Regions from separate parts of the Homo sapiens genome. Here all the other regions are linked to region 1. Evidence: fine-mapped QTL for protein levels in blood plasma. A gene starts in region 1. Each other region holds a variant in brackets. All regions are shown on one strand. Distances are between the middles of the regions.

Region 1 (5,224 bases):
TGGCACAATCTCAGCTCACTGCAACCTCCGCCTCCCAGGTTCAAGCGATTCTCCTGAGTTGCTGGGATTATAGCCTCCTGAGTAGCTGGGATTATAGGCGCCCACTACCACACCCGGCTACCTTTTGTATTTTTAGTAGAGACGGGGTTTCACCATGTTGACCAGGCTGGTCTAGAACTCCTGACCTCAAGTGATCAGTTCGCCTCAGCCTCCCAAAGTGCTGGGATTACAGGTGTGAGCCATCGCCCAGTCCCAGAACTAAAAATCTTAAACCCACACTTCTGAATAAGGTTCTCTGTACATCTAGCACATGGCAGGACCTCTAGCAGAAAAGGCAATTTTGGCCTTTTCCTAATCTATAGTCTTAATTATCAACTTGCAATTCATCCTGAAGGTAACCCAGAAATCATTTCATTGTTTGTTCTGCCTTTATATTTCAGGACATTGAACTTGCTTTTCCTTCATTTTTTTCTGGCAGACCTGAAGATCATCCCACAAGGTAGAACAACTCATTTAACCTATTTGACTTGGCCCCAAGTGTAATTTGTACATAGATTAACTATTCTGAAGAATTCCAATAGAACTCCCTGGGGGGAAAACACCCATTTTAATTGGCATACACCAGAGTCACTGGAATCAGTTACTAAATTACAATTTCCTTACAATTTGGAAGGGTTTGGGGATTGTTATTGTTTTCCTGGTAAATTACTGGATCACACTGGTGTCTTGGAATAAGTCAACACATTTTAAATTTAAGTTTCCATAAACTGTAGCTCAACTTCCCAAGTTCCTAGGGGATTTTCACTGGCCCAGACTCAGGAAGAATTTTCTTCTATGGGATCCAAGACTTCAGAGACCAAACATTTCCTGAAGACTTTCCTCTGCTTTCTGACCTCCACCTACCTCCTCCCAAAGACATAACAAAAAAACTATTTGTGATCAGTGCAGGCAGCCAAGAGTGCCCAGTGGGCCTAAGGTACTGGGTAAAGGAACAGGAATCCACAATTCTTTCTTGGTATTAAGGTATCATTGACTTGCCTGATGGCTCGAGTATGTTAACCCCTTGCTTCATGGCTGGAATTTTAATTACCCCTCCTGGAGCTTTTCTGAAGAATTGATTTTGGCGTTTATTCATATTTCAGAAATCAACTCTATCATCAAATAGGAATGATGGTTAATTACAAAACAAAGTCCGCCCAAAGCACCAAATTATCAGACTGTGGCACATCCAGAGGTTTTGAAACTAGTTAGTGCTGCTGCCTCTGCTGGTAGCTTGTTAAAACCTGAACTGGGGCCGGGCGCAGTGGCTCACGCCTGTAATCCCAGCACTTTGGGAGGCCGAGGCGGGCGGATCACGAGGTCAGGAGATCGACACCATCCTGGCTAACACGGTGAAACCCCGTCTCTACTGAAAATACAAAAAAAATTAGCCGGCCGTGGTGGCGGGAGCCTGTAGTCCCAGCTACTCTGAGGCAGGAGAATGGCGTGAATCCGGGAGGCAGAGCTTGCAGTAAGCCAAGATTGCGCCACTGCACTCCAGCCTGGGCGACTCCGTCTCAAAAAACAAACAAACAAACAAAAACACAAAACCTGAACTGGGTGCGTTGGCTAGTGGTTTGGGAACAGAATTTTGGAGCTTTATAGGAGATGTCCTGGTCTGTTATACATCCACTCACCCCAGCCTCCAGGAACTGGGGAGCTGGTAGAGGGGGGTGCCGGCCACTTTGACTGTCGCTGGCCAATCCTGTCTTCTGCATCCCTCCAAGGCTCCATGGGGACATCCAAGGTGAGGTTCCTCCATTCTGCAAAGTTGCAAATGTCTCTGCTCATAATTTCAAAAGTCTTGTCTGAACTAGACTTTCCCTGCTCCCTCGGGGTAGGAATTTTGTCTCCTCTCCATCCTGGCATCTTTACCTCCTCCCCATCCCGGGGCCTGGTCCCCAGCCAGTGGACGCTCTGTTAATATGAACTGGCACTGGTGGGGTGCTCTGGGCACTGGCAAGACAGCTCTTGGCGCTTGTCATCAATTAGCCCAATTCTCACCACTTTTTTCTCCATCCCCGCGTCAGTGGGTGCGTCCCGCAGGTCATGACCCCAAGTTCTAGATGTAAGATTCCTGCCATGTCTCCTTTCCCCCAGAAGACCCCTCCCCGCACTCCCAACCCGACAGGCCCCTAAAGCTGCCTGTGTTCCGTGCCTGCGGCTCCGGACCCCTGGAGTCTGATGCCCGCCTGGGCTCAGGCACGGACGGAGTGGAGCCAGGTGGCAGCAGGCAGGGCGCGCCGCCAGAGTGCCCAGCTCCCGGGGCTGCCCACAGGGTGGGGCCGCCCTCGCCGCCGCTCCCTCTCCGCGCCTTCCCCATCCCCAAAGAGGACACCCCTCCTTCCGCCCGGCCCGCTCCCCACCCCCGCCGCGGCACCGCCTCCCCAGCCGCCCGCCCTTGCCCAGCGCCTCCCAGGCAGCCAGCGAGCGAAGGGAGCGCTCTGGGATGGGACTTGGAGCAAGCGGCGGCGGCGGAGACAGAGGCAGAGGCAGAAGCTGGGGCTCCGTCCTCGCCTCCCACGAGCGATCCCCGAGGAGAGCCGCGGCCCTCGGCGAGGCGAAGAGGCCGACGAGGAAGACCCGGGTGGCTGCGCCCCTGCCTCGCTTCCCAGGCGCCGGCGGCTGCAGGTGAGCGCGGCGCGCTTTCCCCCGGCTCTGCGCGGCCGGGCGGCCTCGAAGTGCAGGCGGACCGACCCACCGACAGAATACCGAGCCTGGGCTGCCCGACGCGCAGGCGCCCTCCCCAGGCCCGCACTGCAGCCCCCAGCGCCCCGGGGCCCCGGCGCCTTCGACCCCTCCGAGGACAGGGGGAGAGGGAGGGCGGCGCTGCCCGACCCCTCGGCCGGGAGAGCTGGGCGCGCTCCCTGCGCAGGACAAGCCGCGCTGCAGCCGCCCCGGAGTGCCCCGTGGGGGCGCTGTGGCACGCAGCGGGGACGCCCAGACCCCGGCCACCGCGACCCAGGGAAAGGGAGACCTGTTGAGCGGGTATGCAGGGTGATTCCTATTCCACGGACAGCCGATGGCTCCCCCTTCCCTCTTCGGAACCTGGTATTTTCATGCCCGTGTCATCTGGATTTTGTTCTTGGGTCTCTATGGCAGCTAAACCTCCAGCTTCCCTATATTGTGGAAGAGGGAGAGAAAGGGGAAGGCATTTTGTGGTAGTTGCTAGAAACCCCAGAACAATTTGGAGCCGTTTGGGGAGAGGACAGAGAAATGGGGACTGTCCCTGGTAGGGTCTCCAGGACTGGGGGCACAGGAAAGTGCTCTCCTCAGGGACACTCGCGCCCACCCTGAACAAACCCAATTGACCAAGTTTCAATTTGTCATAAATCAGGAAGCCACAATGCATCTGCACCAAGCACACTTAAAATCGGCCTTTAAGGAATGGGGCAGTCAAGAGACTTCAGGGACCCGTGGTCGAGAGCAGAGACTGGGGTCAGCCTGCTTGGGTTTCAACCCCAGCTGTGAAGTTTACAGGGTTGATAACTTGAAGGTACCCAAGTATGCCTCAGTTTCCTCATCTGTCTAATGAGGATGGTAATACCCACAGAACTGTGAGGATTAAATGAGATATGGCGGCCGGGCACGGTGGCTCAGGGCTGTCATCCCAGCACTTTGGGAAGCCGGGGCGGGCGGATCACCTGAGGTCGGGAGTTCGAGACCAGCCTGACCAACATGGAGAAACCCCGTCTCTACTAAAAATACAAAATTAGCCGGACTTGGTGGCGCATGCCTGTAATCCCAGCTACTCGGGAGGTTGAGGCAGGAGAATCGGTTGAACCCAGGAGGCAGAGATTGCAGTGAGCGGAGATGGTGCCATTGCACTCCAGCCTGGGCAACAAGAGCTAAACTCCGTCTCAAAAGAAAAAAAAAAAGATATGGCAAGTAAAGTCCTTAGAACATTTCCAGGAGCATTCTAAGATTAGGTGAGTTCCATGGCTTGTCTTTGCAGAAATAGCAAGGAGCTGCTATGAGCAGTGAATGTACCTCTTCCCCAGTTCAGAAAGAGAGGCTCTCCATGGGTACGTGAGGGTGGCAGATAAGCCACGTGTATGCAACTGGTAGTTCCATGCAGGAGTCCACACGGGCGCAGTTCTCCCTGCTTGCTCCCAAAGGGCCAACCTCATAAAACCATGTCAAAATACCAACATGGGTTTATGACCTGGAATGTTTCCTCTCAGTCCCTGAAACTTGGCACTTAGAATCCTCTGTGGAGAATGAGATACTTATGGCTCTTCACCTTGCATTTTCCTATCTGTCCACACTTTTTACTTTTATTTCTGCCAATAGAATTCAATCTCAGGCCCCCGAGTTACCAGGACACTGTCTTCTATAAATCGGGGCTCTGGGGTTTCTTGTTCCCAGGCAACCCAGGGCCACCAAGGCCTAAGCTTGCTTGTTGGAGGTGTCAGAGCAGAGTCCAAATCTGAAACACCCTCGAGCAGCTGTCATGCCCTAAGCTCTTATCAGCGAGTGCCATATGTCCTTGTTTAGCAAAAGGTAGTTAAAAGTGTGGCCTGAGATTTAAAGAAAAGGAGAGATGTTTGCTCTTTGAAATAAGAGAGCCATTGGAGGTTCTGGAAAAATAATTCTACAGTTTATTTAGAAACAGTTCTGACTGGCACCTAAGAGAGGGCAAGGAGTGAGGTGGGGAGACTAAAAGGGGGAGAGACCGGCTTAGGCCTCAGGAAAAGCAGGCCGAAGAGGGTGTGACAGGTCTAACGCTGGCCTGAGCAAGGTGTTGGGTATGAGGCTGGGCAAGCAGTAGGAGAGGTGAGTGGTTTAAGACCAGTCAAGTTGGCAGAGAGCCTCTAGTGCTGCCCCTGGCACTCACTGCCCTCTGATCTGTAGCACCTGCAGGAGCGTCCCTTCCAGGGATTCCCCGTCTTCTAGGGAAGCTATGGAGGACTCCCCTGTTTAAAGCATATGGCAAGATAACTCAGGAGGGCCAGGGAAAGAGGGAGGCTGAGCATATGCCAAGGGGAGAATGGGGAATGTCATTGCTGTTGCTAGTGAATGGTGCCAGGGAGGTCCTTCCAAGGGGCCACTTGCCACTTGGAGCTTCAGCCCATGAGGCCATCCTTGAACCCTGCCATGTGGCTCGGCAGACAGCCAATACTGCCTGAAGGGGGCTCAGATGGAATGGCAGGGCTGGGCTGTTGCCAGTAATTGGTGTTAATGA
Region 2 (5,224 bases), 23 kb after region 1:
TCTCGACCTCCCAAAGTGCTGGGATTACAGACATGAGCCACTACGCATGGCCAAGATACCTGATTTCTGGATCACCAGCAGTAACTGCCCAGTTGGGTTTCTGATGGGGCTGGTCTCAGGAAAAGCCACCACACACTTGCCTGGAAAAGCACACTGCTTCTCTAGGCTCCAAGTCTCTCTCTCCCTCCCTTCCTCCCTCTGATACACACACACAGACCACATCACCCCCACCTTCCCTGGTTGTCAGCATTCACTGTCGTCCTCCTTTGCCTAGAAGCCCATTTTGCTAAAGGCACCAACCCTGCATCCAGCATTGATTCCTTCTTCTCATTTTTCAAGAGAATGTGTCAGAGACAAAGAGGAGGATGGGGCACAACCTATCTTTCCCACCCCAAGACTGGAAGTGGGCATGGGTGTTTTCACTCCGTGAGCTGTGCAAGTGGCTGCTCCCAGATATGCTGGAGGGCTGCTTGGCTTATGAAAATGGTGGAGTGGGCCGGACATGGTGGCTCACACCTGCAATCCCAGCACTTTGGGAGGCCGAGGTGGGCGGATCACAAGGTCAGGAGTTCGAGACCAGCCTGACCAACATGGTGAAACCCTGTCTCTACTAAAAATACAAAAATTAGCTGGGCATGGTGGCGGGTGCCTGTAATCCCAGCTACTCGGGAGGCTGAGGCAGGAGAATCGCTTGAACCCAGGAAGTGGAGGTTGCAGTGAGCTAAGATCGTGCCACTGCACTCTAGCCTGGGTGACAGAGTGAGACTCTGTCTCAAAAAAAAAAAAAAAAGAAAATAGTGGAGTGACAATCATGAAACCAGAAAGCAAACACTATAGCTGTGGCCTGGATTCTCAAGTGCAATCTGCTTTTTTTTTTCTCATTTTGATGGGGAACAAAAATGGAAAAGCATGCTCATTGGTAGTCCTTGCCCCGAGGGTATGACCTTCTCTTCATTCTTAGAATAATGTAGTGTTTTGTATTTTATGCATGTTTGCTTCTCTTGGCTCTTGGACTATTTGTTCAGAATATGGCCCAGGCCACATTTCACTTTTTAATGGCAAATCATTTTGGCTGAAGTTATGGCATCCACTGGCATGATGGATTTTACTGGTTATTTGCTTGCAAGTATGTTCCTGAAAGTTTAACAGAGTAGAAACAGCAGAATTGTTTCTTAGGTTAATTTTTTTTGAACTTTCTGGGTTTTAAAAATGTTTATCTTTTATGTTTAAATTCAGGTCAGAGTCTCAGTAACAACTTGAGTCAGTTTGAAAAAATAACGCATGTATATATCCACCATCCTGTGAACATCTGTGGGCTGTTCACTCGGCAGCCTGTGATGTCTGTCCACATGGGCTTATCTCTTACCTCATTCATTTATCTGGAATTTCTACTCTGTGCCAGATGCCGGTTGGGGGTGTGGGGGTAGTGTTTAAGATGAATAGACACCATCAGGAGGTGCACAGAGTAGTGGAAGAGACAGGCATGTGAAAAGATCATTAATTTGGTAGAATCGGTGTGCAAAAGTAGAGGCATAGCTACATTATAGCTCAACTCTGCCTGCTGAGCAGGCTTAGTGTAAGGCAGTGGTTCTCAAGCTTTGGTCTCAGGATCCTTCCTTTTACGCTAAAAATTATTTTTATTTTATTATTTTATTTTATTTTATTTTGAGATAGGGTCTCACTGTCTCCCAGGCTGGAGTGCAGTGGCATGATCATGGCTCGCTGCAGCCTTGACCTCTTGTGCTTAAGCAATCCTCCAACCTCAGCATCTCAAGTAGCTGAGACTACAGGCACATGACACTACGCCTGGCTAATTTTTGTATTTTTTGTAGAGACAGGGTTTCGCCATGTTGTCCAGGCTGATCTTGAACTCCTGGGCTCAAGCGATCCTCCCCCCTCAGTCTCCCAAAGTGCTGGGATTCTAGGCGTGAGCCACTGTGCCCAGCCAAAAATTATTAAGGATCCCAAATAACTTTTGTTTGTTTTTTAAGAATCCTGAGGACAATCAAGGGAGCTTTGTTTATGTGGGTTAGATCTATTGGTATCTACCTGATCAGAAATTTAAAAATAACAATAATAAAATCAGAATGTGTTAACAAACTATATATGTATAAAAAACTATATTTTCTGGCCAGGTGCAGTGGCTCATGCCTGTAATTCCAGTACTTTGGGAGGCTGAGGTGGAAGGATCACTTGAGCCCAGGAGTTTGAGACCAGTCTGGGCAACATAGGGATACCTTGTCTCTACAAAAATAAAAAAATGAGGCCGTGCACAGTGGCTCACACCTGTAATCCCAGCACTTTGGGAGGCTGAGGTGGGCAGATCACTTGAGGTCAGGAGTTTGAGACCAGCCTGGCCAACATGGTGAAAAACTGTCTCTACTAAAAATACAAAAATTAGCCTGGTTTGGTGGTGTGCACCTGTAATCCCAGCTACTCCGGAGGCTGAGGCAGGAGAATCACTTGAACCCGGGAGGCGGAGGTTGCAGTGAGCCGAGATCACACCACTGCACTTCAGCCTGGGTGACAAGAGTGAAACTGTCTCAAAAAAAAAAAAGAAAGAAAAAAAAAAATTAGCCGGGTGTGGTGGTACACACCTATAGTCCCAGCTAATTGAAATGCTTAGGCTGCAGGATCACTTGAGCCCCAGAGGTCGAGGCTGCATGAGTGAGCCGTGATGGTGCCACTGCACTCCAGCCTGGGTGACAGAGTGAGACCCTGTCTCAAAAAAAAAAAAAAAAAAAAAAAGAAGAGTAGCACCGTTTTACAGTTTTGCAAATCTTGTAACGGTCTGGCTTCGTAGAAGACAGCTAGATTGTCATTTCTTGACCATTCAATCTGTCATGAAATGTTTTCGTTAGATTATATGAAAATGCATGGATATGTAGTTGGAAAAGGGAAGAGCATTTAAATAGCCTTTTCATATAATTGTGAATGTTCTTTGATACTACACCAAAACTTGACAAAGAGTAGTTTCTTAAAGTTTAGTTGCAATG[T/C]GAAATCTAAAATCAGATCAATAAACTTTTTGTTCTCTATATACCCACAAGAGAATGAGAGTATGAAAGGCAAACATTCATGTTATTATGGAAATAGTTCTGACCTCATGGATCCTCTGAAAAGGCCTCAGGGACCCCTAGAATTCCCCAAACTACACTTGAGAATGGCTGGTTTAAGAGAATTGTTCCCAGTGAAGGTCCTGCCCACGGAGAGCCCTGTGGGACAGCAGGTGGCAGAGGCATGAGGATGGAGTGTGGCAGTGGGGCTCCGATGTGGCGCTGGGTCTGCCAGACAGGTGGTCTGAGCTGGAGATAAGGCAGCAATAATTTAGGACCTCGAGGGCTCCAAGGAAGGAGTTTTGAGCTTCATTTTGCAGGGGTAGGAGCTGTGGAGGGCTTTAAGCAGTCAACAGTGGGTGTCGCTTTGTCTTTGCACCCACTGTACTCTCCGGACAGACTTGACCTTCCTGGGTTGTGGCAAAGAGCAGGGATCTAAATAGCAGGCTGCAACAGGAGAAGGAACGAGCACCTGCTCTAGCCCAAAGACCCCTCCAGGCCACAACGCTGGCAGGTAGAGTCGGAGAATCTGACTGTGCTGTACCCAGAACCCTTTGGACTTGGATTCTTCCCCTTGACCAGCCTTATCAGTGGCACCCATCCCCTTCCACACTCCTCGCTAGGCCCTCCTCAAGGGGGCGCTAACTGGAAGGCATGCTGCCCCACTGCTAATGGCCGCCTGCTTCGTTTGTGCACACTTTTTCTCTTTGTTACCCCACTTTCCTATGAGGAGGTGGACCTGTCTCCAGAACAACCAGTGGGGTATATCAGCCTTTTTGGAAACCTTAACCCTCCTTGCCCAAACTCCCAGAGTATTCTTATTTATTTATTTATTTATTTATTTATTTATTTATGATAGAGTCTTGCTGTGTCACCAGGCTGGAGTGCAGTGGTGGGATCTCGGCTCACTGCAACCTCCGCCTCCCAGGTTCAAGTGATTCTCCTGCCTCAGCCTCCAGAGTAGCTGGGATTACAGGTGCCTGCCACCACGCCCGGTTAATTTTTGTATTTTTAGTAGAGACAGGGTTTCACCATGTTGGCCGCCTGCCTCGGCCTCCCAAAGTGCTGGGATTACTGGCGTGAGCCGCCGCACCCGGCCCCCAGTGTATTCTTGATTCCCTCCACTCCACAAACTACTCTACAGTCAGCCAGCTTGTGGTCTCTGGTGGTGGTCTGTCTTATGAGGTCTTGTTGACATATGCATTCTTTTCTAAATTTACCAAACTGGCTCATTTTATTTCTGCTAACTAAACTTGAAAGCCTTTTCTTTTCCTATTATAGACTCTCCTTTGGATCAATACTACACACTCAGAAGTTATGTTTGTGTTTTAAGAGAGCATTTTGTGGCAATATGGCATCAATTCTAGAAGTGGGAGACAAAGATTTAAAAGGAAGTTGGCCCTGCAGTCTGGTCAGGGGATGGTAGGGCCTGAGCTCCCTCCCACCCCACACCCCACCACACACACTGCTGGAAGAATTCCAGAGGTGTTCCAGGGTAGACACCACAGCATTTAGTAAAATTTACTCATAACAGTTAATTTACTACTTAAAAACTAATGAAGAAAATCTAAGAATTCACCTTTTTTTTTTTTTTTTTTTTTTTTTAGACAGGATCTTATTCTGTTGCCCAGGCTGGAGTGCAGTGGCACTATCATAGCTCACTGCAGCCTGAGCTCAAGCGATCCTCCCAAGTCAGCTTCCCAACTAACTGGGACTACAGTCATGTACTACCACGCCCAACTAATTGTTTAATTTTTTTGCAGAGACAGGGTCTTACTATGTTGCACAGACTGGTTTCAAATTCTTGGCCTTATGCAATCCTCCTGCCTTGGCCTCCCAAAGTGTTGGGATTACAAGTGTGAACCATTCCTCCTGGCAGAATTCACCTTACACAGCCCCAAATTCTGCTCTTGGGGAATCACAGTGTATTAAGAGACACTTATTTTCATTTTTGCATGTATCTCTAAACCTGACATCAAAATATTCATAAAATTGCAATACGTTTCATATAATGAGCTGAAACCTCCTAAGTGAGCAATGTGAAGTTGTTGGCTGCCTGGAGAATTAAATGTAAGCATGGCCTGCTCTGTGTTGCTAATGGAAATTTTTACCTAGGTTGATATTTATTAACCCCCCCTTTTTTTTTTGAGACAGAGTCTTGCTCTGTCACC
Region 3 (5,224 bases), 110 kb after region 1:
TTTTTCTCATTTCACCTCTAATCCAACAGGAATCCTGTTAGCCCCACCTTCAGTATTTACCAGGTGTATTAGTTTGCTAGAGCTATGCTGTGGTTTGGATATGGTTTGTTTGGCTTCACCAAGTCTCGTGTTGAAATTTGACCTCTGTGGCCAGGCACGGTGGCTCATGCCTGTAATCCCAGCACTTTGGGAGGAGGCTGAGGCCAGTGGATCTCTTGAGCTCAGAAGGTTGAGGCCAGCCTGGCCCACATGGTGAAACCCCGTTCCTACTAAAAATATAAAAATTAGCCAGATGTGGTGGCGCACACCTGTAGTCCCAGCTACTTGGATGGCTGAGGCAGGAGGATCACTTGAACCCAGGAGGTTGAGGCTGCAGTGAGCAGAGGTGGTGCCACTGCACTCCAGCCTGGGAGACAAAGTGAGACCCTGTCTCAAAAAAAAAAAAAAAAAAAAAAAAAAAAAAGACAAGAAATTTGATTCCCAATGTTGGAGGTGGGACCTGCTGGAAAGTGTTTGGGTCGTAGGGACAGATCTCTTCTTATAAGAACACCAGTCATATTGAATTAGAGCACGCCACCCTAATAAGCACATTTTAACTTGGTTACTTCTGCAAAGACCCTATTTCCAAATAAGGCCACATTCGTAGGTACCAGGGTTTAGGACTCCAACATGTCTTTTTAGGGGACATAATTCAACCCATAACTTCCAGAACACCACTCCCCCTCATCCCCTGCAACATCCTGGTTTAAGCCTCCACCCTTCCTCCCTGGGATTACTGGAGTCACTTTCTTACTGGTTTTCTACTCTCAGATTTGCCCTGTCAGTCTATTCTTGACTCATGGGTCCAGAACCCTGCAGTGACTCCCAACTCATTCAGACTAAAAGCTGAGGTCCTTGCATGGCCCATGGGTCCCTCCTGACTGCCCCCTTCTCATCTCCCACCTCTCTCCCTCCTCCAGCCACCCTGGCCTCTTTGCTGATCCTCCAGCCCACCAGGCAGAGTCCCACCTCCTGGCCTTCGCACTTGCTGTTTGTTTTGCCCAAGATACCCTCTCCCAGATATCCTCACGGCTCGTATTTTAGTCAACACTCTTCCTAACCACCCACCTTCTCAGAGAGGCCTCTCCTGACCACCTCTATTACATCCCACCTGCTACCCACTCCCCCACTGACCCTACTCCTATTCATTGTTTTGCTTTTCTCCAGAATTTTCTTTATCTCCTAATAGACTATGCTATTTACTTATTTTACTTCTTATCTGCTCCCCACTCCCAGCATCATTATCCAAATATACGCTCCTTGGGGGCTGGAATTTTGGATTATTTTCTTACTTGTTCTATCCCTAGCACCTAAAACAGGACCTGGCCCGTAGTAGGTACTCAGGAACTAATGAATACATTTTTGTTCATTACACATATTTGTGTAATGAACACATATTTGTGGAACTAATGAAACAAATGAAATATTTGTGGAACACAGGAACACATTTGTGGAACTAATGAAAAATCAGCCAGTGTATTTTCTCATACATTGTTAAATCATTTACCCTTATTCAATGTTCATCTTATTTTCTAGGATTTTTTGTTGTTGTTGTAAACAATGCTATTAATAGTTTATTGTATATAATTTCACCCTTTTCCTGGCTATTTCTTTGGGTTTCACGTCCAGGGTGAACATTGTCAAATTGCCTTCCAAAAGGATCTTTCTCAATTTATAATGCCCCTACCATTAATAACGCTGCTGCCTTTCTACCACTGGGTTTTATCTCATCTTATTTTTGCCAGTTTACTAGGTGTAAGTGCACCTTGTGATGATTTTGATTTGCAATTCTTTAACTTTTAAATACAATTGTTCACATGTTCTTTAGTTTACTTCCTATATCTTCCTATATGAATTGCCTGATATAGACTCCTGATTTTTTTTGAGGGGGGCAGAGACCTTGGGTTCATAACTGTTTATCCTACTCTTTTGGGGGGCAATAATATTAATCCTAATTAATATCTGTTATCATTTTGCCCTCATCCTACCATTCCCTTTTCCTCTGTTTGCATTTCTAATTCTGAATGTGTTTTATTCTCTCCAGCTGTGGACTACTGTGCCTCAGAAAACCACGGATGTGAACATGAGTGTGTAAATGCTGATGGCTCCTACCTTTGCCAGTGCCATGAAGGATTTGCTCTTAACCCAGAT[A/G]AAAAAACGTGCACAAGTAAGTTACACACACATGCACACACAGAGAAATATTTGCTGTTACTGCTGTGGTGACTGTGACCATGGAACTCTCTCAAGTATAGATTAGCAATATAATTATGTCATGGGGGTCTAATACCTTTTGCCCCATTCCTCCTCTGTCAGGACTTTCATGACTTGGCTTAAGACCATAGACCACTGTATCTCAACATCACTATTCAAGGAATATGATGAAGGCACCATGTGTAGGACTGTTCCTTCAGCATCTGCTGAGCATGCTGACAATCCGAGCAACTTACTTCCTGCTAACTCAGCCTGACTGTGCCCATCAGCACTAACAGGGCTTGAGATGTTTTCATTGAAGCTTTGTGGCTTGTGGGCTTTAGCTCTGACTCCACGCAAGAAAATCGCTGAGCCAAAAAGAATCATAAGTGATTTCTTCTGGTGGACCGCAGTTTGCAAAGAACTGCTCATGTTTTGTTTGAGCTATTTAGTTCAATTGGATTTTAACTGTATACATAAAAATCAGAATTAATTTCAGCTCCCAAAATTTGAACATAAAATTCGATAAACTAAAGATGATCATTAGTTTTGCAAAAAAGATAATAACTAGTTACAAAAAGATTCCAAAAGTGTTCTATTAAATATAAAGGTACATCAGGAGACTTAAGGGATTGTGTATGGATTATTATCCTTCTATAGGGAGGATCACTTGAGAAAAGCTTGCTTGTTAAGTATTAGGGCCAAGCATTTATAAAAAGTGGACTTTAATAACAATCTAGAATAGGGTAAGGCACCTCAGAGACATGCATCAGTGAGAAAACAGGATTTTAATTCATAAAAAGTTCATGTACCTACAACCTTTCTAAAATGTATTCACTATGTAAAACAGGATACATCTGCACAAAACCTTTTTCAACATAAACTTACTTCCTACTCTTCAATACCTAAATATCAGCAGCTTACAAACACCAGAGCTGGAGGTTTGGGTGATGTATGGAACTATAAGGGACACATTAGGTCAAAAGCATACATTTCTGGAGCCCCAACCATGTGCCAATAGAAATGAGTACGGCAAGGTCCTTAAGGGAGAAGATAACTGTGGCTGAGTCTTGGAGGTGGAGCTGTCATTCACTAGGCAGAAAAGGGTGAGGTGGGGGTTCCAGGAGAAGGAAAGAAGTTGAAGATGTGAACCAAGCAGAGAACTGTAGTCTCCATGCCCCGTGCATGACTGGCATATACAGTGGTTTATTTGTTTTGTTTATTGAAAGAGTAAGTAAATGAATGAGTGGGCTGCTGTGTTTGTGGTCTCCCTTCCCTTCTGAATATTCTGAACTGTAAAATAGCAGCCTGTGCTGTCGTCGTGGTTGGGGAGTTGTGGTTGTTGGGCTGATGAGTCAGTGTTCCTCATCAAAGAGGAGGCCGTGGGCTGCCAGCAGCGGGCCTTGGTTCTAATCCCAGCTTCTCTGCTTTTTCTCTTGGTGATCTTGGGCAAGTTACTTATGCCTCAGTTTCCTCAGTTACAGTACAGGATGATAATGCTGCCTACTGCATAGCATTATTCTTTCCTTTTTTTTTTTTTTTTTTTTTTTTGACACTGGGTCTTACTCTGTCACCCAGGCTGGAGAGCAGTGATGTGATCTCGGCTCACTGCAACCTCCACCTCCTGGGTTCAAGCGATTCCCCCACCTCAGCCTCCCAAGTGGCTGAGACTACAGGCTCGCACCAACACACCCAGCTAATTTTTTTGGTATTTTTTGATAGCAGTGGTGTTTCACCATATTAGCCAGGCTGGTGTCGAATCCCTGACCTCAAGTGATCCACCCACCTCAGCCTCCCAAAGTGCTGGGAATACAGGCATGAGCCACAGCACCCGGCCATAGCATAATCTTGAATACTAAATGAGGCTGGGCACAGTGGCTCACGCCTGTAATCCCAGCACTTTGGGAAGAGAAGCAGGAGGATTACTTGAGCCCAGGAGTTTGAGACCAGCCCTGGTAATATGGAGGGACCCTATTTCTACAAAAACTGTTTTTTTTTTAATTAGCCAGGTATGGTGACAAGTGTCTGTACTCCCAGCTACTTGGGAGGCTCAGGTGGGAAGATCACTAGTTGGGCCTGGGAGGTTGGGGCTGTAGTGAGCCATGATGGCACCACTGCACTCCAGCCTGGAGGACACAGTAAGACCTTGTCTTAAAAAAAAAAAAAGGCTAAAAAGGGATGATGTGGGTTTCAAAGACTTTATTTATTATCATTATGTTTTTTTAGAAATAGGATCTTACTCTGTCACCCATGCTGGAATGCAGTGGTGCAATCCTAGCTCATTGCAGCTTCCAACTCCTGGGCTCAAGCAATCCTCCCACCTCAGCCTCCCAAAGTGCTGGAATTATGGTCATCATGAGCCACCACACCTGGCCTCCAAAACTCTAAAAAAATGAGTATTTAACTGTGCATATACCACGTGCCTGGGCTACATTTAAAGGTGCAAAAAACATTCAAGATTTCCACTGCAAGCTGGTGAGGGACCTTAGCCATAGCCACACTGAGTAGCTGAGTCATGGTGCCAGGAGTTATGTGACCAAGGGCCTACAGTGTGATGCAGCCAGGACCACAGCAGGAGTTAGAGGAAGGAGACCAGTTAGACCAGAACAGGTGAGATGCTGCCTTGCAGGGATGAGGACTGGAGAAAAACACATATCCTAGCCAGTCTCCTACCTGCCTCTCCAGACTGCACACACTGGCTGGGGTCACCTGATTTCCACCCCAGCACCAGCCCTAGTTCCCAGAGTGGCACCATCTTCCCCACCCTGTGGCTCAGCATGCCTCCTGTCCCAGATCCCCAGCCCAGGGTGGTGCAGGCAAGGAGGGTGTTGGAGCCCTGGAATCAGACCCTGGAAGTAGATACCGCAGCATAGTGGGACTGGGAGAGGAGGTTTGGCTAGGAGCCACGGGAGGGGCTGATCCAGCTGTGAGGTCTCACCAGCTAGGCAGCGAGCCCAGCAGTGCAGTTGTCAGAATCAAGATCCAGAAGTGGGCC

Direction of the effects. Alleles are on the strand shown, and positions count from the first base shown. The strength of an association depends on the size of the effect and on how common the allele is.
As copies of C replace T in region 2, the plasma level of the protein whose gene starts at base 2,447 in region 1 goes up (weak association).
In carriers of allele A in region 3, the plasma level of the protein whose gene starts at base 2,447 in region 1 tends to be lower than with G alone (strong association).

What was found. PIP is the posterior inclusion probability: the model's chance that the variant is causal. Protein levels are from antibody-based Olink assays in UK Biobank. Linkage for the fine-mapping came from a reference panel and not from the study's own genotypes, which makes the PIPs less certain.
Region 2: its variant is fine-mapped to the plasma level of the MATN2 protein (UK Biobank, PIP above 0.99).
Region 3: its variant is fine-mapped to the plasma level of the MATN2 protein (UK Biobank, PIP above 0.99). The variant lies in the coding sequence of MATN2. If it changes the protein, the assay may bind it differently, which can mimic a change of level.

Annotation. Positions count from the first base shown.
Region 1 is chr8:97,866,618-97,871,841 of GRCh38, forward strand. It overlaps MATN2 (matrilin 2), which reads left to right and starts at 2,447. Exons shown (of 19, transcript NM_002380.5): 1 at 2,447-2,670. RefSeq lists an enhancer at 1,548-2,047.
Region 2 is chr8:97,889,691-97,894,914 of GRCh38, forward strand. All of the region lies in intron 2 of MATN2 (matrilin 2), which reads left to right. Among named protein-coding and RNA genes, the nearest start is that of MATN2, 23 kb to the left of the region's middle. The variant T/C (reference allele first, on the strand shown) is at 2,997.
Region 3 is chr8:97,976,803-97,982,026 of GRCh38, forward strand. It overlaps MATN2 (matrilin 2), which reads left to right. Exons shown (of 19, transcript NM_002380.5): 6 at 2,084-2,206. Among named protein-coding and RNA genes, the nearest start is that of SNORA72, 63 kb to the right of the region's middle. RefSeq lists an enhancer at 3,340-3,389. The variant A/G (reference allele first, on the strand shown) is at 2,191.